Linked DNA regions of Homo sapiens. The protein of the gene in region 1 interacts with the protein of each later gene in a biochemical or structural test. Each region holds a gene or a part of one and is shown in the gene's direction. Other genes may lie near its edges.

What was found.
Region 2: the proteins of AKAP1 (region 1) and CFAP91 form a complex in vitro, tested with the Homo sapiens proteins (one study listed by BioGRID and IntAct).

What each region holds. Positions count from the first base shown.
Region 1 is NC_000017.11:57,085,821-57,096,396, forward strand, and holds part of AKAP1 (A-kinase anchor protein 1, mitochondrial precursor), read left to right. Parts: exon of another isoform or gene 1-254; intron 255-552; exon of another isoform or gene 553-717; intron 718-9,668; exon of another isoform or gene 9,669-10,139; intron 10,140-10,576.
Region 2 is NC_000003.12:119,739,151-119,749,726, forward strand, and holds part of CFAP91 (cilia- and flagella-associated protein 91), read left to right. Parts: intron 1-104; coding exon 105-176; intron 177-1,398; coding exon 1,399-1,545; intron 1,546-4,824; coding exon 4,825-5,046; intron 5,047-7,964; coding exon 7,965-8,113; intron 8,114-8,660; coding exon 8,661-8,752; intron 8,753-10,576. UniProt on the Homo sapiens protein: Involved in sperm flagellum axonemal organization and function. May regulate cilium motility through its role in the assembly of the axonemal radial spokes.

The sequences.
Region 1 (10,576 bases):
GTCCCACCCAAGGTCGCCCAGCCCCGCGGGCGTTTACTTTTCAAAGGTCGTGTGTACACAGTCTGAGCCGGAGCTGCCCCTTCACTTCTGGAGCCTCGCCCAACTTCTCACCCTCGGCTCGCCCGCCGGCGCAGCCCCTGGGAGTTCCGTGCGGCGAGCCAGGGGAACTGGGAAGATGGGCCGGGACATCGGCCGGTTGTGATCCAACCGTGTTTCGGGCTGAGGGACCGTTCGAACCGAATTGGGGTCTGGAGGTCGGAGGCTCAGGGGCGTCTCGGGGGGAATTTGCATTCGTAGCCCCTGCAGGCGTGTCCGGAGGGGTGGAGGCCGTCCAGCCTGGGGTGTCTGCCGACCTCACGCCCGGGGGCCCCGACGGTCACGTGTCCGGCCCCGCCTGCGGCCCAGGGCCCGGGGTCTGCGATCTGGAGGGACCGCGCCAGTTTTGGGGTTACGATGTGCTAGGAGAGGCAGTGGCTGGATGCCTCGAACGCGGGCTTTCTGGCGTTCAACTCTTTTGTGCCCTAGCTGAAGGTCTTCCTGTTTCCCTTCCAGGGAGGGATAGGAGAAGAAAGGTGCTGATCGTGGTAGGCGGTGCTGTGGCGACTCGGAACGGCATGGGAGCCCTGGGCGTTTCGGGATCTTCCTCTCCTGGGGGATGTCCTGGGTGGCGGCGCCTTCCTGCCGCCGTTAACACAAACCCGGTGGACTTCGCTCCAGGTGCGAGTCGAGGCCTCTCAAGCTGGGTAGGGTGTATGCGCAGGGCAATTAGTGAGGTTAACCTGGGTATCTTTCCCCTACTGTAGTGCGCGTTACTTCGTGTTTAGATTTGTCTCCAGTGAAATCTAGGCTGCTGGACCTGGTGCAACAGTATCTGTTAGTTACTGATCAAGGAACACCGTTCACAAAAAGCTATTAATTCTGGCAACTAGTAGCCTTACAAGCTCTTGTAACTGCTAAGTCCTTCCCAAATTAGTACCTTTTTTTTTTTTAACTCTTTATTTAGAAAGCAAAGCTTGGACTCTTAGCACCACCCATCCACTTTGCTCTTAAAGGTACAGAACATCTTTGAAATGAAGAAGGCTGCCTGACTTGATCATTTATATAATTCCTCTGATCTTGGCATTGAAGTGGTTCACCTGCTGATTATTTAAGACCCTGAGCACTGGAAGCAAGTGAAGTTATGTTTTGGGAACCTTTTGACTTGTGTTGAACTTTTCTTTAACCTCTAACTAGTTTTGTAGGTTCTGCATAATTCTTGGGTGTATTCTCTTTGAAATATGGCCCTAGGTTAGAGGAGGTCCTCTGGATCCTACAGGCATGCAAATCACTAAAGCTTGAGTCCATTACTGGATTAATAGGCTCTGTCTTCATGCATGTTGTCAGATGATGGCTCAGAACTTGCAGGTAACAGATCCTAGCCAATGAGTGAGACAGGTCTAATGGATTTGTGTCTAGGTCTAGTTCCTTGTAGGAATATCTCTCCCATCTCCCAGTTGTTTCTAGGAAATGCATTCTCACTTGGCCACTGCAGGGTGACAGTGGAGGTGTCTGTTGTAAGTGGCCTGCTCAGGTGCTGAAGTCGATATGTCTCCAGTGTAAGGTTGCTGAACATCAATATTTAAAAGCAATTTATCTTGCTGCCTGGTAACCCAAATTATTCTTGAGCTTTGGACATAGGCTGGGTTGCAGCCATATTTTAGGGGAAGGCTGGTGTTAGCCTCTACAGTATTCCCTTTTCCTGTCCTAAAGACAAATGGAGATCATATTTGTGATACTGGGGACTGTGATAGGTGCTTAAGCATTGCTCTTCCCCTCTCCTCCCTGAACAATCCCTGAGACTGACTTTGTTTCTCTTGAATTACTTGAGTGACTTGAATTCTATTAAAAGCACCCCTCTCCTTAGCCTCTGACCCAGAAGCTTGTTTGGGAGGAAAAACGAATTGGTTTCCCTAAGCTTTGCTGGCTAGCCTCCTGCTCCCAGCCTGCAACATGACTTGATTGTGTGTGCATTTCAGGGCTTTGAAGAGCAGGCAGCTTGTAGCCAATGTACCCAGAGAGCTGGCCGTAGAGTTCCCCTAGGTCACTCCTTCCTAATCTTCCCTGTGAGTCTGAATGATTGGGCCTTTCTGTAGCTTGGTCTGTTTTCCTATTGTGGGGAAGTCAGTTGTTTCAGGTATGAGTTAATACCTTCAGCTTGTCATTCTCAGGCGTTTTCTTCCACTATGGGGAGGTAGTAGATCCTGTGGGCATCTTGTCCCATTGAAATCATCTCATATACTGTTTGAGAGTTGCTCATCTTTATGGTGGGGGGTGTATTTTAGTCCTAAATCTTGCTTCTTAGGGCAAGTTCTGTTTCTTCCATGTTCCTTCCTGGTGTAATACCTCAGGCAGTTTTCACTTTTATGATCATTTAACATTAAGTTCCCATCACATGTGGCATCCCACTGAAGGAACCTCCTGGCCTTGGTACCTAATTTGAAGCTTGGGCTGTGGAAAACATCATCAGTGAGCATGTTTGAAGTAGGACAGAGTCTGGCTGGAGAAACAGGTAGTGGGGGAGCTGGGAGCTAAACTTGAGAGGATGCCTCTTTCTTGATAGTTACTGTGCTAGGTGAGTTATGAGCACACTAATCCTTTAATCCTCACACCTCTGAGAACAGTGAGGGTGAAGCTGGAGGTCATTCTGGATTGTTTCAGTGGCTGTCACACAAATTCAAATTGAGGGGTAGAGGAACTAGGAAGCGTGGGTGTGGAGTTAAAACTAGGTCCTCTGGATGGCTTTTGTGAGAAGAACCAAGGAATATTCTTAAATCCCTGGGCTTTTCTCCTAATCTTTCTGCTGCTTTCTAAGTAGATTGTTAACATTGTGTGTGTTATCATTCAGCATTCTGAGAACTAGCTTTCCAGCAATAAATAGCTTTCAAGGTGTCCTTTGCCTTAACTTTTTCATTTTACTAAATGGTGCAGCCTTGTCCACATTCTGTCCGGGTCTTCACCATCTGGTTGTTTTTCCGGCTTGGTTTGATAGTTTGCAGCAGTCAGTGGTAAACATTGTGTTCCCTGTTCTGTAATGGTGGCTGGTTGTGTTCACCGAGCCAGGTGTCACTAAGGCCCAGTTGCACTTGGGAGCAAAGAAGGGCCCTGAGGTGAGTCCTGGAAGTAAAAATATGTATAACCTAGGGCTGATGAGGCTTGTTTCACTGCTGGGCTTAGCTGACAAGAGCCTGGGACTTGCTGCAGCTCTCAGAGCTGAAACCTGGCGGTGATTCTAGGCAGGCTGGTTGGCCTTCCAGATCTTGGTTTATTCAGTGGCTAAAAGAGGTTTGGTCAAAATTATCAGTATTCAGATTATGGTCCTGGGAGCCTTGGAGTTAGACCAAACGTGCCCAGGGGCCACTGGAGTGATGTGTTTGGGCTGGGGAGCACAGCTCAATGGGTAGTACATGTCAAAGACTTAAGGGGAAAAAAAACAACTCACTGTTCATCTCAAGTTCTTAGCTCTAAGGTGTGCTACTGTTCTAAATATTTTTTATTTTTAAAGATAGCTTTATTTGCCTAAATTTGTCCTGGGTGTGGGGAGTTTAGAGCTGCCTTGTCTGTAGGGTAGCTGCTAGCTGTGTGACTAATTAAACTTTTCAAAGTATTTTTAAAAAAATTTCTTAGTGACATTAGCCACATTTCAGGTTCTCAGTGGCCTCGTGTAGCTAGTGGCTGCCGTCCTGGTCAGTACAGGTCAAGAACATTTTCCATAATCGAAGAAAGTTTTGTTGGACAGCGCCGGCCTAGAAAGTTTTTTTTTCTCCAACTCTAAAAGCTTAATTGTCTCAACTTGTAAATCTCTAAAGCATAACATGTTTGAGCTTAGTCTTCCAGAGTCCATAAACCCAACAGCTTTGGTGACAAATTATCTACTGGTTGTCTCCATGGCATACTACAAGTGAGTTCTAGTCTGCCAGTTGGGAGTGGACGAACAGTTTTGAAACAGTTTGAGTGAGGACCTTCAGAAAGGACCTGGGGACAGGAGCGTGAAGCAAAGGTCCAGATGCTAAGCCCTTAGAAAGCCCTTTTGGTTTGAAGCCGTTTATTATCATAAAGATCCCTGCTGGTTTGTCCTTGGTCTCCAAATGTCAGATGTCAACATATTGTTACTTGGTCCTTCACCCACCTGATGACTTCCTACAGATCTCAGTGCGGCCCTTCTCTTAAACGAGGTTGTGTTTTCATTCTGCTGTTTCCAGTCCACCTAAATGTTAGGGGCCATTCTTCACAGAAGGTGTTGGGGGAGAGTGGGGCCACAGCGTGGATGCTAACGTGTTCTGTTGTGGCAGGGGTGGGGAGTTCTTTGTTTCCAGATGCCCCCTCTTCTAGTCCTGGGTGTGCTTTGTTTGAACCCTGCTAGATTGACCTTTGGTATATATAATGTGAGATCTCTTTTCTTGGAGCCAGGCAGCATAAAGGACACTTACTGATGAGCACCTACTGGCATATTAGTGGCTTTTTTTTTTCTGTGTCATTTTTATTCTCTGTCAGCCCTATGAGGTTAGTACAGTGATTAGTTTGTGGGTGAAGAAACAAGATCCGAGTAGAGTAAACTGGTCCCTGGACACAGCAAGGGCTGGACTGGCTTGGACCTGGGCTGGGGCGTGCTCCCCACCTCCTCCTCTGCCCCTGCCGCCCCCCATGCTCATTGGTTGTTGCTTATTTACTGCCCCTTTATCACCACATCCTCATTCAGGAAACTAAACTGGGTTTTACAAAGATTAAAATCATTGATCCCACATATGGAGTCTGACTTAAGTGTGTTCAGCCTCGTTACAACTCTGTGAGGGAGATATTCCCTATTACAGAACATCTTCATTTTATGGGAAACTGAAGTACAGGATCCTACTCTTAACTCTCTTGTCTTTCCAAAGCCATATTTTATCATCAGAATTATGCAACCATCGGGTGCTTTTGAAATGCACAAGTAATGACTATGAATAAAAAAAGCTGTGCCTGAGGGCTCAGGGAAACTGCTCTGAAGACTGAGCTGATTGAAAAAGACAATCCTGAAGTCACTAATTTCCCGACACCTGTCAGACCTCACTTGGAGGTCACAGACCATCTCCTGGCCCTCCAAAGGCTGTCACCCAGCAGTAGCTGGCCTCCTGATTAGAGGAGGCAGTAAGATCTTTTCAAGCACAGCCCCAGCCCCCATCCCTTCTCTGGCCTGGGCCTGGATGTGCCTTTGTGAGGTTGGGTCGATGACAGATCTGAAGGACAGTTCAGTCTTCTGTACACTCCTTCTTGCCCCTCCTTTCTGCCACTCCCAAGAAAAAGGAGCAGGAGTGATTCTCACTTTCCTGAACTGCCTTGGAGGGAGACCCACACTCAGCTGTGCCTTTAGCTGTCTCTGGGAGAAAAGGCCGTGCTGCAAATAACCTCCCTGCTTTGTCCTTTGGCTTTGGTGTGGCTCACCTGGCCAAGCATGTGCTGGTGCTATTTTTAGCAGGTGGCATCCTTTAGGAGGGCCAAGTGCATGTGGCTGCAGTGTACGGGACAGGTCCTGGTGCCAAAGCTGCTGCTGTCTCTGCTGCCACCGCCTCGTCAGGAGAGAGAGGAGAATAAAGCCACCCTGGAAGCTGCCAAGGGGTGTGTGGAGGGGGTGGCTGCTTAAGAGGTCTCCAGGGCTGCCTTTTCTATTCTGGATCTGTGGCAGGGGCCCAGCCTGCCTCCTGGTGCAGGCAGGCATGTGACTGAGGCAGCCCGGGGAGCTGGGGAGCTGGGGAGCTAGGTGTCAGACTGCTGCCTGGGGAGTGAGGACCCCTTGTTGCCCCAGCAGGCAATTTTTCAGGAAACCACATAACCCCATTAAAAACATTATTTATTTATTTATTTATTTATTTAGAGATGAGGTCTTGCTTTGTCACCCAGGCTAGAGTACAGTGGCTCGATCATAGCTCACTGCTGCCTTGAATTCCTGGGTTCAAGGGATCCTCCTGCCTCAGCCTCCCAAGTACCCGGGACTATAGGTGCACATCATGATGCCTGGCTAGTTAAAAAAATTTTTTTTGTAGTGATGGGGTCTCATCACCTTGCCCAGACCCATTTCAAGACTCCTAGGCTCAAGTGATCATTCCATGTTGGTCTCCCAAAGTGCTGAGATTACAGGTGTGAGCCACCGTGCCTGGCCCCATAACTTCATTTTTGTGTGAAGTTGCCCAGCCTAAAGGCTGGCCACTAAATGGACACTTAAAAACTCTCTAATAGTGTGGATTGGTGGGCAGTCTGATTCCTCTGGCTTAAACCAAAATGCAAACATGAAAGGAGGCATGGCCATAGACCCCCGGTGAGAATTCTTTACTGTGATGACACAGAAGCTGAAGAGGGATGAAAAAGCAGTTTGACCAGCAAGCTTGCTGGTTCCCTAGGCCACCCTTTCTTCTCTCCTTTTCAGTTCCTCCTTCCCTCTAACTTGGAGCTGCTAACTCCAGCCCATCTAACTGTTTCTGATTAAGAAAGCTTCAAGCCTTATAAGGCCCTCTGTTGCCTATGGTTTATGTTGGCTGGAGAGCAAGGTTGTTTTTTGCAAAGTCTGATTCAAAGAAGTGGCAAGGGCTTACGTAGGCTGTGTGTGTCCGCCTCCTGGGGCTGGACTGCCTTATTGGAACAGGTTCCTTTGAGGGAGCCTGAGAGTAAGGGGGGCTTATTATCCCTTACCCTTAGTGGTGGCTCTGTAAGGCTAATGTGTGGTGTGGCCACAGGGCTTCCTGGCAAGTGTATTCGCTGAGAACTTAAAGGTAAAAGCAAGCCCCTGTTTACCTACACAGTGTACCTGTCATGCTACCAGCCACAGAGGCATCCTGTTTCAGGAATCAAGTCTGGAAGCAGCTTCTGCTTATTAATTAAGAACTAAAGCCCCTTGGCTCTTCAGGCACATCGCTTTCCCCTCTGGAGAAAGTTTGGTGGACCGTGTCCCTTGGGGTTCTTGCGAGTCCGACTGGCCTTCCGCGCAGTGATGTTGGAGAGCCCTTTTTCTGAGAGCCATGCTCTGCCTCATCTTCACCTCCCCTCTTGCTACCTCTTGAGTCAGCCAAGCCTGTTCCTGCCTTAGGACTTTGGCACATGTTCTTCCTGCCTGGAACTTTCTCCCCGCTCTCCTCCTGCTTCCCCCCAGATCTTGGCACAGTTCTCAAGTGTTCCAGTTCTGATGCCACCTCTTCCAAGAGGCATTCCCGCCTCATTCTGTCTGCAGCTTCCCCTTCCAAGTGCTCCATCCAGCCTTTCTCATTTCAACCACAGCACACAGAAAAGGACTAGGTGACCGTTCCTCAACTCTCCCAGCTGGTGCCCTGCTACACGCACAGGGATATAGGTAATTCATCACATGCAAGGGCAGCCTTAGGGCTCAGTTCTCTCAATCAGTTGAGAGAGGCTGCAGGTCTTTATATTTAAGTCGCGGAATCTTTGCAGTATCTTACCTGTAATTTGACTCTCTACCCTTCCTTCCACCTTTGCTTCCTGAGGGATCTCTTTGCCTTATGTGCCCAGCGAACTTGGCTCACAGTGCGTGTTAAACTCTTTGTTAAATGACTGGCCCTGAGAGGTCCAGCCATCTGATGCTGGCTAGCCCTCAATGCCTTGCTTCCAGAGGGATCTAACCTGTCAATAAGCATGCTCTCTTTTTGATATTACTATTATGTCAGCTGGGCAGCTGGGGGTCTCTGAAGCAAAATTGGCATCAATTATTATAGGAAAATAAGGCCTTACAAGTTTGTACACAGATGAGTTGACATTAATGCAAATTTAGGATGGTTAATAAGAAACATAAAGCTGTGTGGTAATAGAGCATGCATTGCTACTTGTATGTATCTTAATAACGTGTTTTCTATCAAAACATTACTTGTAGAAAGGATTTGGCTTTTGACTGTGTACAAGGCTTGAAAGGACAGTCCTTTGCCCACTGCCCCCCACCCCCATTACTTTCAATTCTTCCAGCTGTCCCCACCATTGTCAGTAGTATTATTTTCTTTCTTTTTAAGGATTATTATCTGATTTGTTTTTCTGCTGTGGGAGATAGGATTTAGCTCGTTCCTATGCTTTTTTCTTCCCTCATCATCCCAGTGTAGAGATAGCCCAAGTTTTGGTCAAGTTGATCTTCAGAATATACATTATTATAATATGAACCTTGTTTATGGCTGCAAGGTTTTTAGTTTCCCATATTTCTTCTTTTCCTTCATTTTCTTCTTCTCCTCTCCTAGTTAATTTCCTTAGTTTCTTTTGCTTAATTTTCTGTCTCTCTCACCAGTTCCCTGACCACCTCGCAGCCTCCACCATTGCTGTGGAATGCCTGTCATTGGGGGAAAGTGGCTCTCACTGTGGCTCCACATACCAGGTACTCGCAACGGTTCCACGTTTCTCCTGGGCGCATCCCTTTTCCCTGGCTCTGCTTCCCCTTCAGCCTTGGAATTCCCTCTCCCCTTCTCTTGTCTCGTTTCTGGATCCAGTGCCCCTCCTTTCTTGGTTGATTTCCTTGTCTTGGGGGAGCCCATCGTTCAGTAGCTTGCTGAGAAGGTGTGCGTGGTTTGTGGCCCACAAGAAGCCAGCCGATCCATGCAGGGACAGGCACCTTTGAAGGCATGGATTGGGCCTTCAGTTGGGTGGCTGAAGTCAGCAGACAACTAGGCCTGTGGAGCCCTTCCGCCAGGCCAGGCCAGCAGAAGGTCTGGCTTCACTTTTTAGAGAAGTTATAAATGTGGCGATCTGGATTTGGGTACCAGGGAGTGGTGAAAATGGGTCCCCCCCAACTTTTTTTTTTTTTTTTTTTTTTTAAAGACAGGTCTCACTGTCCCCCAGGCTGGAGTGCAGTAATGCCATCATAGCTCACTGCAGCCTTGATTTCCTGGGCTCAAGTGATCCTCCCACCTCAGCCTGCTCAGTAGCTGGGACAAGAGGCATGTACTACTATGCCCGACTAATTCTTTTAAATTTTTTTTTGTAGAGATGAGGTCTCACCACATTGCCCAGGCTAGTCTCGAACTCCTGGGCTCAAGTAATCTTCCAACTTCCCAAAGTGTTGGGATTACAGGTGTGAGCCATCGTGCCTGGCTGAAGATGGGTCTTGAATGAAAGTCTATATATTGAATGGGGCATCCCAACTCTCCTTGGCTCCCATAATGCTGGCATTCAGGCTTATATTCTCTCATTCCTACCCCAAGATACTAGAACATTCTAGTCTGAGGACACTGGCACCCCATTTTCTGTTCCTCCTTCACCCCTAACAGGGCACTTCCATGTCCTATGGACAAAACTTTCAGTTGGTCAGTAGCAGAGAGTGGCAGTAACAGGCCCACTGGAGAAAAGGTCATTGCTTGTTTTTTGAGACAAGGTGTCACTCTGTTGCCCAGGTTGGAGTGCAGTGGTGCGATCTCGGCTCACTGCAACCTCTGCCTCCTGGGTTCAAGCAATTCTCCCACCTCAGCCTCTCGAGTAGTTGGGACTACAGGTGTGCGCCACTATGCCTGGGTAATTAAAAAAAAATTTTTTTTTTGTAGATACAAGGTCTCACTATATTGCCCAGGCTGGTCTTGAGCTCCTGGCCTCAAGCAATCCTCCCGAAGTGTTGGGGATTGTAGGCGTGAGCTACCGTGGTGGCCTGTTTGGGCTTTTTTTTTTTTTTTTTTTTTCTTCTGCCCTCCACTACTCCCCGCCAAGACTGAAAGTGCCTCGAGGGCAGTGCCTTGCCTGATTAATTTGTGTCCCACCATGCTTTTCTCTGTGAGTGCCAGTAATTATTTGTTGAATAGAAATTACCTTCTATGCTTTTATGTGATTTCTGGGGTGGTCGTAGTTCACTGTCTGCCATTAGGAAGATCAGGGTCTTACCTCTTTGGTTTTGCCCATGTGAGGTGCTGCGAAGGGTTTCTTGCTGCACACCAACATCTTTTCTGATGTCTTTACTGGCTTTTAAGTCAGGTTGTTGTCAGATTGCCATTTCATACTTTTTGGGCAGTTTTGTGTAATGTCTTCTGTGGTCGTGGGCGGGAACTCCATGTACCCAGGAAGGCATTCCTGGCACCTGTGTTGTGACCATCTTTAGAAACCTGGCGGAATTCACTTGTAAAGCAAGATGGTTGTCAAGGCCAGAGGTGAGGGGCAAGGTGAGTGTGACATAGTCTTCAAAGTTTTAAAATCCACACCCCTACCCCCAAAATGAAGTGATTAGGAAGACCTTTGTAGGAGGTGCTGATGATTTTTCCTTCACGAAAAGAGGCATGTGACTTGGACCTGCCATGGATTTGGCCAGCAGAGCAGGAAAGAGACTGGGCAGTTCAACCTCGGGTACTAAGTTTTCCAGAGCAGGAGTTGGTTTAACTTTTAGTTGGGCTGGCGGAGCTCTTACTTTGAGGCCATGTCCAGAGATGGTATTTCTGGCTTTTGGCTTGTCTTGTCTTACCTAGAGCACCTGGTAGTGGATTCAGGGTTTTCATTTTGGCCGTAGAAGGCTTTGCCAAGCAGGTACTCAGACACTACTGGGTTAAGCTTCTGGCCTTCCTTCTGTGAATTGGGCTGGGAAAGTGTCCCGAGTTCCTGACAG
Region 2 (10,576 bases), on another chromosome or scaffold:
CATCTAGCACAGTCTGTTTTGCTTGAAATAAGTCTTCAAAAGAATATTTGATGCTTGGACTACTGCAGTTCTCAAGCTGCTTGGTTCTCCCTTTGTTCTTTTAGGAAGAAGAAGAAATGGAAATGGCTGTGATCTACCTTCAAAAGTTACTCCGGGGCAGAGTCGTTCAGAACATGGTGTGTAGGTCCAACCGCTGGCCCTGCATTTCTCTTTTGAGAATAAATTTTTTAGAATGCATATGTGCTTGGTTCCTTGGAGTGAATCCCTTTTGCACCCTGCTATCCTATTCAGCTAAACTCTTGAGTTGCCTACCCATTTCCTTCTGGTGACCCATTTCCTTCTAATGGCATCATTTGTCCAGGTGGGTGGCACAGTGTCAAGGAGAGAGACAGGGAGGACCTACCTGCTATTTGCCATGGTTGTAACTAAGGCAGTATGAAACTCACTTCTTCCTTGGAATTGTTAAATCCATACATTTTCTCACCTGAATTTTGGCTATTTAAGCATTATCAACCAGGTGGATTCCCTAATTTTCCACAGTCATAATACAATTATTTGAGTTTGCATATGTCTGGCAATCCCTACATTATAAATGAAAGAGCTAAATAATAAATTATGGTTTTGAACCTTTACTATATGCCCACACTATTTATTCTTTGCTCTACATATGTTGTCTCATTTTTTTTTCCTATCCATAATCTCATTTTACAGGCAAGTAATCTGAGTCTGAGGGAGATTTAGTTATCTGCCAGCAAATTCAGCTCTGGTCTTCCCGAGTGTAAAGCCTTAGCCAGATTATTTGTGTTGCTGGAGCAGGCACACTTCACTTAAAAAATGGACTGATATAAAGCCCCAGTTAATTTTTTTTCCCAGATAGCTATAACTCATAAGAGATTCAGATATGATGAGTAAATCATCTGGATGAACAACTTGTGTTTAGCACTGTTCTTTACTCTTCTTTCAGTATTTTCCCAAGAGAAATGCCACAGTTAAATTCAGACAACAGATTATTACAAACCAGGGACAGATTTATTGGAAAAAAACATATGGCCATGAAAAATGCCATCCTCAGGTTTATTAGGGAAGGAGCACAGGAAATGAGGGGAAGGTTCTGGTTTCTTCAGATGACCCTGGAGTTGTCATCTTGTCCTTGAGAGGCATTCTCAGAAATTAAGCACAGCTCACTGAAAACTAAGCCCATTTTCTGCCTGAGAAGCTGAAGGCACAGAAAAGAGGGCTGAGCTCTAGCTCTGTGGGACACATCTGCTCTGTGGAACCCAAAAGGCAGGACAGAACCCACTGTTCACAAGTGTCTCACAAGTCACTGCGTGTGACTCCTAGTGCTTGGCACAAAGGGATGGTAACTTGCAGGTCTGTCTTTGATTTGATTTGATACAGATGTTTGAAGGGAAAGAAAAGCGACTGGAGTTGATCCAGGAGTTGCGCACCTGCCACGCACTACAAGAAGATGAAAAGCTGGTGAAAAAAGCCGAGAAGCAAGTGACCCTGGCCTTACAGCGGCAGAGGAACTTGCATGAGCACAAGGTTTTCCTTTTTTTGTTTTCTTGTTACTTTCTTGTTAAATTTTCTCCCTTGATTTTATCATCACACAGCACCATTATAATAAAAATTAATGAAATGATGAAAAAGAAACAGCCCCACAATCCCATCACTCTGTCAGCATTTGTGTGTGTGTGTGTGTGTGTGTGTGTGTGTGTGTGTGTGATGGAGTTTCACTCTATCGCCCAGGCTGAAGTGCAGTGATGCAGTCGTGGCTCACTGCAACCTCTGCCTCACGGGTTCAAATGATTCTCCTGCTTCAGTCTCCCAAGCTGGGACTACAGGCATGCACCACCATGCTTGGCTAATTTCCGTATTCTTAGTAGAGATGGGGTTTCGCCATATTGGCCAGGCTGGTCTCGAACTCCTGACCTCAGGTGATCCGCCTGCCTCAGCTTCCCAAAGTTCTGGAATTCTTAAATAATGCTGCTGTAGTCCTTAATTTGATTGGGGATGTGCCCTTACTGATTTGAATATGGTGCTATTTTTTCTTTATTTGCAAAACAATAACAACAAAACAAGAAGAATGCATTCTTTTCAACTTTAAGATTTTTTTCCTTCCATTTTTTTCCCCAAATATCCAGTGACTATTGTATTTCAGTTAGTGAGGGCTTTGTAGACTGAATAAATAACAAAAGCAACATGAAAAAAGTGAGAAATAAGATTTATCTTAAAATATTAGCATTTATTTTGGAGTTTTAGAGCTGTCATAGCTCATGCTGGTTAAACTGCATATTAAATGTGTTACTGTTTCATGATATGTGGTGACTTTCGTCATGACCTCCCAGCTGTGTGCCGCCTGACACAGCTAAGAATTACAGCTCCAAACCAACAACTGTAAATATTTTTCCTATTTTCTTCCAATGTTTGTCTATATATGTATACACACTTTTAAATGTTATTGACATAGTATAGCTATGCTTTATTTTACTCCCTCTCCCACTTTTCTGTAAGTCAATCTGAAAAAGAATCAATTTGCACAGAATTTAGTGTTATAGGGAAGTAATACTTAAAGTTAATATGACCCCCCCTTTAGCAACATACATAACTCTTGTGTTATGTGGGAGTCGGGCACAAATGGTAAGCAGCCTGGAAATGACCACAACTTTGTTTCTTTCACATGACAGCAGCACCATGGATGTTTGCTGAGCTTGGGGAACTTTTGGGGGGTGAGGCAGAATGGGGAGGAAGCAAGCCACAGGCTGTGAGATCCAACAGAGGAACCAGAGAAGGAAGAGGAGAATGTCAACACTGGAGTCCCTGAATCTAGAAGTCCTAGAGTCCTGGAAAAGCTCAGATAAGGAGCAGAATGCCCTGGAAGCGCTAGGCCCTGAGACTGTGGATGAAAAAATGCCCTCCTTGGCCCTTTCAGTTTCTGATCATGACTTTAGTGGGTATAGCTAAGCTAACCCAGGCTTTTCAGCTCATTTATTCCATTTAGTGGATATACATGTGAGTGAAATCGTGTCCGCCTACAGCTAAGGGAGGAGTTAATGGGCAAAGCTGTCACTTAGCCAAGGACTCACTCTGCTTACCTTCAGCTGTACTTGGATACACCCTGGATATATGCAGGGATCTGAGGGAGTGAGCACCTCATGTATAGATGCAGCAATGCTGGTCTGCCCCCTTCCCCCTTCTCTTATATTTCTGTGGAAAACAGTCCAGAAAATGCACAACCCCCAATTACGTAACACAGTACTTTCTGTGACTACAGTGGAGTCCCCTCCCTAAACATTTCCCTTAATTTCAAATTAGATGGTACTGCCTGTGCCTACCCAGATTTCTTGCTGAGAGAAGAGGCTAAACATGAACAGGATTTCTAGCCACCTCAGGATTTTCAAGGTTGCACCTGACCCTGAGTGAGGGAGCTTATGCTCCCTGGAGACAAGGAGAGAATCTATTTGTGATCTCTGGGCTGAGTATCTACTGTTTATGAATGGAAGGAGTAGTGAGATGCTCTTAGCTTTGCCCTTTTTTTCCATCTCTCCCTATTATATAAGTAAAGTTGAACTTTGTGGTTAGAAAGTGTGTGTGGGCTAGGAGGCAGGTGAGGATGAAGATGGGTGGTGTTGGGGCCAACAACCACACTTGACTGATGCTTTTACCCATAGCCCCATGGCCTCTGAGAACTGAGTATTCCCTCCTTTCATACAGAAACCAGGAAGGAAGCTGAGCATAGAGGGAGAACTGTCACTGAGAAGGTGGCATGTGACTGGAAGATGAACCCTTTTCCCTTACAAGCAAGGATAGGAGAGGAAAGGGGATGAAGTTGCAAAGTCATCTTAAACACTTTTCTTCTCCATATGTCAAAGCCAGGACACAGGGATTCATAAATAGGCACTGTAGCTGACTTCTGGCAGAGAGCACAATGGGTCCCTAATTTTGCCTCAGTGATTAGATGGACATTTGGTCTGTTTCCTGTGCTTTTTTTTTTTTTTTTTCTGAGATGGAGTCTCACTCTGTCACCCAGGCTGGAGTGCAGTGGCGCCCTCTGCCTCCTGGGCGCAGGCAATTCTCCTGCCTCAGGCTCCCGAGTAGCTGGGATTACAGGCACGCACCACCACGACTGGCTAATTTTTGTATTTTTAGTAAAGACGGGGTTTCTCCATATTGGCCAGGCTGGTCTCGAACTCCTGACCTCAGGTGATCCACCCGCCTCAGCCTCCCAAAGTGCTGGGATTACAGGCCTGAGCCACCATGCCCAGCCATTCCTGTGCTATTTCGAATATTGTTGTTAATGACTTCAAAGTTATTAAAAAAGTAAAAAGTACCAAGGTTTTCTACTTTCACGTTATTCAAGATCTTAACTCCTAACTTGTGTGAAAGGAAAGATATTGAAAAATTAACTGATATCATGAGTGAATTTCTAGGAGATTCAATTTGATTAAACTCCAATATTATCTTTAATAAAAAACTTGACATTTCCCTTCATATCTGAGAAGACACACTTTACCTTGTTGATAAAATTGAAAGAAAAAAAACCCATTCTCCATGGTCACTAACAGAAACGTCTTGCTAAATCCTCTTGCTTATTTGAGGGCTGTGGTCCATCAGTGACTGACCAGACAATCGACTTTCTCGTGCCTCAGTTTTCCTCATAAGAACTTGGGTTGGAGCCAATTGAGAGGTAATATTCCCAGTAAAAATTAAATGCATTCTGAAAGTGAATTGACTGCCAAGAGTTTTGAGTAATCCAGCACTTCTTCTAATAATCACCACTCATAATGGAATTTGTGTCCTTAAAGTTATGTTATTCTTTTCAAGGTGTCACTGGTTGAAAACCATTTGGCCGGACTGGAAGGAAGGGCACTAGCAGACATGTTTGACTTCCTGTCCAAAGAGCTGGTGAGACTGCAGGAGGAGAGGAGGATCCATGCCTTTGTCATGCTGGCTGAGCGCCAGCGGCGGGTACGAGAGGCTGAAGAGAGTGGTCGGCGCCAGGTGGAAAAACAGCGCCTGCGGGAGGAGGACGAGATATTTAAGGAGGCAAGTAGGGGCAGCTGGGTGTGTGGAAGCTGCCTAGAAGGAGCCAAGTCAAACCAAAGGAAGCTCATGACATAAAATGGCATTTGGCTTTTGTTTATGCATTGAGTTCCTACTGTATGCCAGGCACTCTACAGAGGCACTGTGGGAAACTTTGGAGGAAAAAACCCAGACACGATCCCGTCTCTCCTAAAGCTTAAATAACACATAATACGCACGTGTATAGAATTAGAAACTGTAATGAGTTCCATGAAGGAAACAAATAGGGCCCAGAGACACATTTTAAGCCAGTTACTTCACTTGCTGTGTGGAGCACAGGCTGGAGGGAGGACAGAGGGGGAACAAGGCGGCCAGGAAGGAGCTGTTGAAGTAGTGAAGGCCAGAGTGAGAGACAGGAAGTCGAGTATTACATCCAGTTTCGGGCTTAAGCAGCTGGAAGATGATGGTATTATTTCGTGAGGTAGGAAAGTTGAGAGAGGAATAAGCTTAGGGGCAGGGGAGGAATCAGGAAATCAGTTTATATTTCGTTTGGGACATCTAAGCAGAGGTATTGTTTCAGTAGATGGATCTACAAGATGGAATTTAGAAATGAGGGTTTGGCCGAAGATGTAAATTTGGAAGTTGGTGACCAGCTTCTAGCCTCCTACTAATCTCAACACACTTTTCTTCAAAAACAGTGACTGAGATTTAGAAATTATTGGCAAATCAGAACTTGCCATCCTTTACCTAATATCACTAAGGAAGAACCAGCTGGGGATGAGAATAAGAAGAAATGGAACAGAGGAGCTACTATACACAAAAGCAGAGAAAGGAAAAAGCTGGTAAAAAAGCTTCTTAGGAAGATACCTTCTAAATGGGAATGATGTCAGAAAACATCAGCTCTGTCTAGCAAGGGCAAGAAAGGGTTAATATAGCCTTTCTAGCCTGATTTAAGAACCACTTAGGTAAAAAATGTACTCAGCTATGGACCCACAGATTCAAATATCATCCATATGTTAATTCTCAACCTTCCTAATTAAAATATAGTGACTATTTTCCATCCTACTTCCCCAGCCTCCATTCAGATTCTCTTGAAGAGAAATATGCTTGCACATAAATTATAAACCAGAAATGTAATATTTAATAAATTTCCAAAATATGCATCTAGATAGTGAGAAACACAGATATAAAGTCATCGACTCATCTTTAAATACATATAAATTTTGCAGGCACATACATGAGGACATATTTACAAATATAATCTGGTGTGCACAACATTAGCAAGACATAGAGGAACACACATAGCCACACTTTTCCTTATTCACATACATACACGCACAAACGTCTCCAGAAATTTACACATTTATAAAGATATACATAAACACACAGGTACATATACAGCTATGGATGGACCATAGTAAACTTTCCACCTCTCTACTATTACGTGACTGAGCTAATTGATCCATATAGATCCAACTTGCTTCCTGAATAAGAGGGTGGGCTCTATGAGAGCATGAATATTGTATATTCCCTTTGTGCCTTGCACAACACAGTGTAGATCCCTGTAACTAATAGGCATTCAGCAGATATATTTTGGTTGGTTAGTTGTTTGGTTGATACTGTATTAAACTGGCCATTGAGACTCTCCCATAGAGAAGGCATAGGGATTGAAGGTTGATGTTTTACACATAGGTGTACAGTATCATATACTCAGAATTGTGCCAAAGTGCCAATCCACAAACAGGTACTGAATTGTTACTGAGTCCCAGGCATTATCTCAGATACAAAGCTATATTTAGACATGAAACAGAAAAATGCCCTACCTCTAAAAAGCTGATAATCTGTTGAGGAGACAGCATACATATACAGGCAAAACTAAGTATGCCACAGTTGATGCTTAATCTTTCTATATACATACACCTGTAAAGCGGGCAAAACTAAACTACTTTGTTTATGGTTACATACCTAGGTAGCAAAATTATAGAGAAAAGAAAGTGTTTACTATGAAAGTGGGAAGGTGCTGTGGTAAAGGAAGAAACCATGGTGGCCTTCTGAGATACTGGCAGTTACTATAATACATGGCTTCTGACTTTACCCTAATTCATTACACTGTACATTTATGTGCTCTGTACTTTTTATTTTGTTTTATTTTTCTAATCTCTGAGTTTGCTTGCAATGCACTTTTAAAATCTGTATCCTATTTCATGATTTCAAGTAAACTTTAAAAAGAAGCAGTCAAGGGCTGGTATGATAGTTCAATAAATTCATTAGAGACCCAGGATCCTTCTAGCTTTCTGCTCTTCTGCTCCTAGGTCGTAGGCCTTCTGGCAATTTAAGATGATTGCTGGTATTCCAGCATTATGTCCTCATGAAAGGAGAAATGAAGAGAGAAAAAAGGAAGCCAGGTCTTTCCCTTTAAGAATCCTTTCTTTGGTCAGAACGTGGTCATATGGGCAATCCAGCTCCTGTGGGTGCTGGGAAATGTAGTCTTTATTCTAGGCACCTGTTTCCCTAGCTAAAATCCAGGGGTTCTATTATGTAAGAGGAAGGAGAGAAAGGACACTGCAGAATACCTCCTAGTCTGTGCTACAGTTAGATAGTTTGACCAAGTCACGTTGCTGGTAAGAACAAAGCCAGGATTTGAACCAGCGTTATTGACTCTGAAGCCCATAATCCTTCAGCAGTGCTGTCTTGCCTGCCTGCCCAATAAGATCCATAATTCTGAAATGGGCTAAATGGGTGTGGGCTGCCCAGAGTGAGTAGGTAGGTGGATGAGAAACAGACTGATGAGATGCTAAAGAAAATGAATGATTAGTGAAGGGACTGTTGACTTATTAAATGAAATATATGAGCTAGAAAAAGTTAACCAATGTTTGTGTATTTTTCTTGTGTTGTTTACAACAGCATACCTGTTTTAGTGAGGGTATTATTGTTTTTTGCAGGTGGTTAAAGTTCACCATAGTACTATAAGCTCCTACCTAGAAGACATAATACTGAATACCGAAGCGAATACTGCAGAAGAACAAGCCAGGGCAGAAATAGAGAAGATGGCTGAGAAAATCAATGACATTGCTTATGAAATGGAAAGCCGGTGTGTATCAAGAGAACAGATTGTAGAATGGACAGCCCATTTGCTGGTACTCATATATATTTTTTCAAGAGCTTACAATTTCACCACCAAGTAGAAACAAATAACTCATACTTCAGCGTCCATTGTTTTATTAACATTAACTCTTGAGAAGCCAATATGTGTATGCCTCCGTATGTATTCTCAGTTATCCTCTGCAATCTGGATTACTCTCATTACTTACTTTAAGAATACTCGGAAGCATGAAAACAATGTGAATACGTGTGTGCAACATTACTGGGACTTCATCCCAAGGTTGCTGGCTTCTATGTATAAGCTGTGTTTCCAACATTCCCTTCCTGGCAGGCAGGGTAACTGAAGGACAGGGTCAAATCCAAATTTTTTTGTGGAGTTAAACAAACTTGCCAGGAATGTGATATTTCAGATCACTTAATCAAGGAAAAGGTGATGGTGGGGTTTGAATGGAGTTGCTTACACAGCAGGAAAGCATAAATCAGCAGCTCAAGTGAAAAAACCAAAGAAATAATTCAATTTGTTTTATATTTTTTAGCCGAACCTATCTTCAGTCAGAGGAGATTGTTGCTGAGTTGGTTTATAGTTTTCTGATCCCAGAGGTGCAAAAATACTTTGTCAAAGAAAAAGGTAAGCCAATGTAAATGCTTTACTTTAGGATTTTTTAAAGATGTAAATTATTTTCAATATCCCAGAGATTTAAAATTAAACAGAGGGATGAGGAAATTTCTAAAGGAGGATCACTGAGTTTTCTTATTTCAGAGCTTGTCAGGTTCTCTTCATGCTGCCTGATTCTAGAATATAATCAACTCTAGTACAGATGGGTTGTAGTTCTAATAAGAGTGACAGTATCAAAATCCAAACCTTGTTTAAAAGGATGTTCCCAAGTTTTCAGAAGAGCTGTATTTTTTTATTTATTTTTTTAAAAAGCATAAAACAGATATTGAGCATATAAAAGATTTTCACATTGTAGCAGCCTTTCAGAGGCAGGACACGTGAACCGTGAATGTTAAAAAGGAAGGGTGCTAGAAAGGTCTAAGTCTACCCTGCTGCTCTGCCTGTACCCCAAATAGCTTATTTCTGCTGGAACTCCATCCAAGTATAAATATCCTAATTTATCATTTGTCACCGGTGGCATGTTTTTAAAGATTGATGCTTTTAGTCAATAGAGAAAGAGAAAATACTATCTTAAACAGAAAAATAAGATTCTTCCATAGCTCTGAGGCTGCTGATGGCAGGCTTGATCCTAGACAGAGGGGTGCAACCAGGAGAAGACCAGTATTTAAGTGAAATAGCAGCTCAGAAGTATTGAAAATTATACCGGGGAATTCCAGATGGGCTTAAGCAGAAAAATGCTTAACATTTCAATTTGCTCAATCAGGGATAAAGAAATGGTGGAGTTCTAACACATTTGGAGAGGACAAAGAAATACCTGATTTTTCCATTGCATGGTTGTAGTGTAATTTTTAAACCAGTACCCCCTAAGGATAAGCATTTAGTTTGTTTCCAGTTTGTTTTCCTGTTACTAACAGTGCTTCAATCAATATATTTTACACATATCCTGACCATGCTTCTGAGAGTACATTCTTAACAGTGCAATTGCTGGGATATAAGGTATATGTATTTTACATTTTGATAGATAGTACCAAATTTCCTTACAAAAAGATTGTTCTACCAATTTGATATTACCAAATTGCCCCACAAAATGATTGTTGACTTGCATCAATAGTGTATGATAGTGCTTATACAAAAAATTAATTTTCAGATCAAGTAATATATTTCTGTGTCACATTATGTTATAAAAGGACCTTATGTTTTCTAGGACCTTAAGAAAATATGCAACTCTGTTCCACTTCTCCTGAGTTCAAAGTGAGGCCAGCCTGCTTCAAAGCCATTACACCCTTGGTTGAATTCCACCCTAGGATTGAAAGAGAGGAGGAAAACTGGGTTTAATATTTACTAGTTTGTGGCCAGGTGCAGTGGCTGAAGTCTGTAATCCCAGCACTTTGGGAGTCTGGGGCGGGAAGATCACTTGAATCCAGGAGTTGAGACCAGCCTGGGTAACACAGGGAGACCCAGTTACTACAAAAAATATTTTAAAATTAGCTAGGTGTGGTGGTATGCACCTGTAGTCCCAACTACTCAGGAGACTGAAGTGGGAGGATCACTTGAGTGCAGGAGGTGGAGGCTGCAGTGAGCCGAGATTGTGCCACTGCATTCCAGCCTGAACACAGAATGAGACCCTGTCTAAAAAAAAAAAGAAAATTTACTAGTTTGTGATCCCCTCTCCCATGTTGGGAGTCTGAGTTGAGGATTTGGAGGAAGACTTGAGCTAACGGAATCCAGTGGAACTTATCTATGGGCAAGTTGAATGAGTCCTTAGCCTCTTCCCTTTATATTTTTGCCAAATCAAAAAAGCCATATGAACAGGGAGCACACTAGGACCTTTTTCTC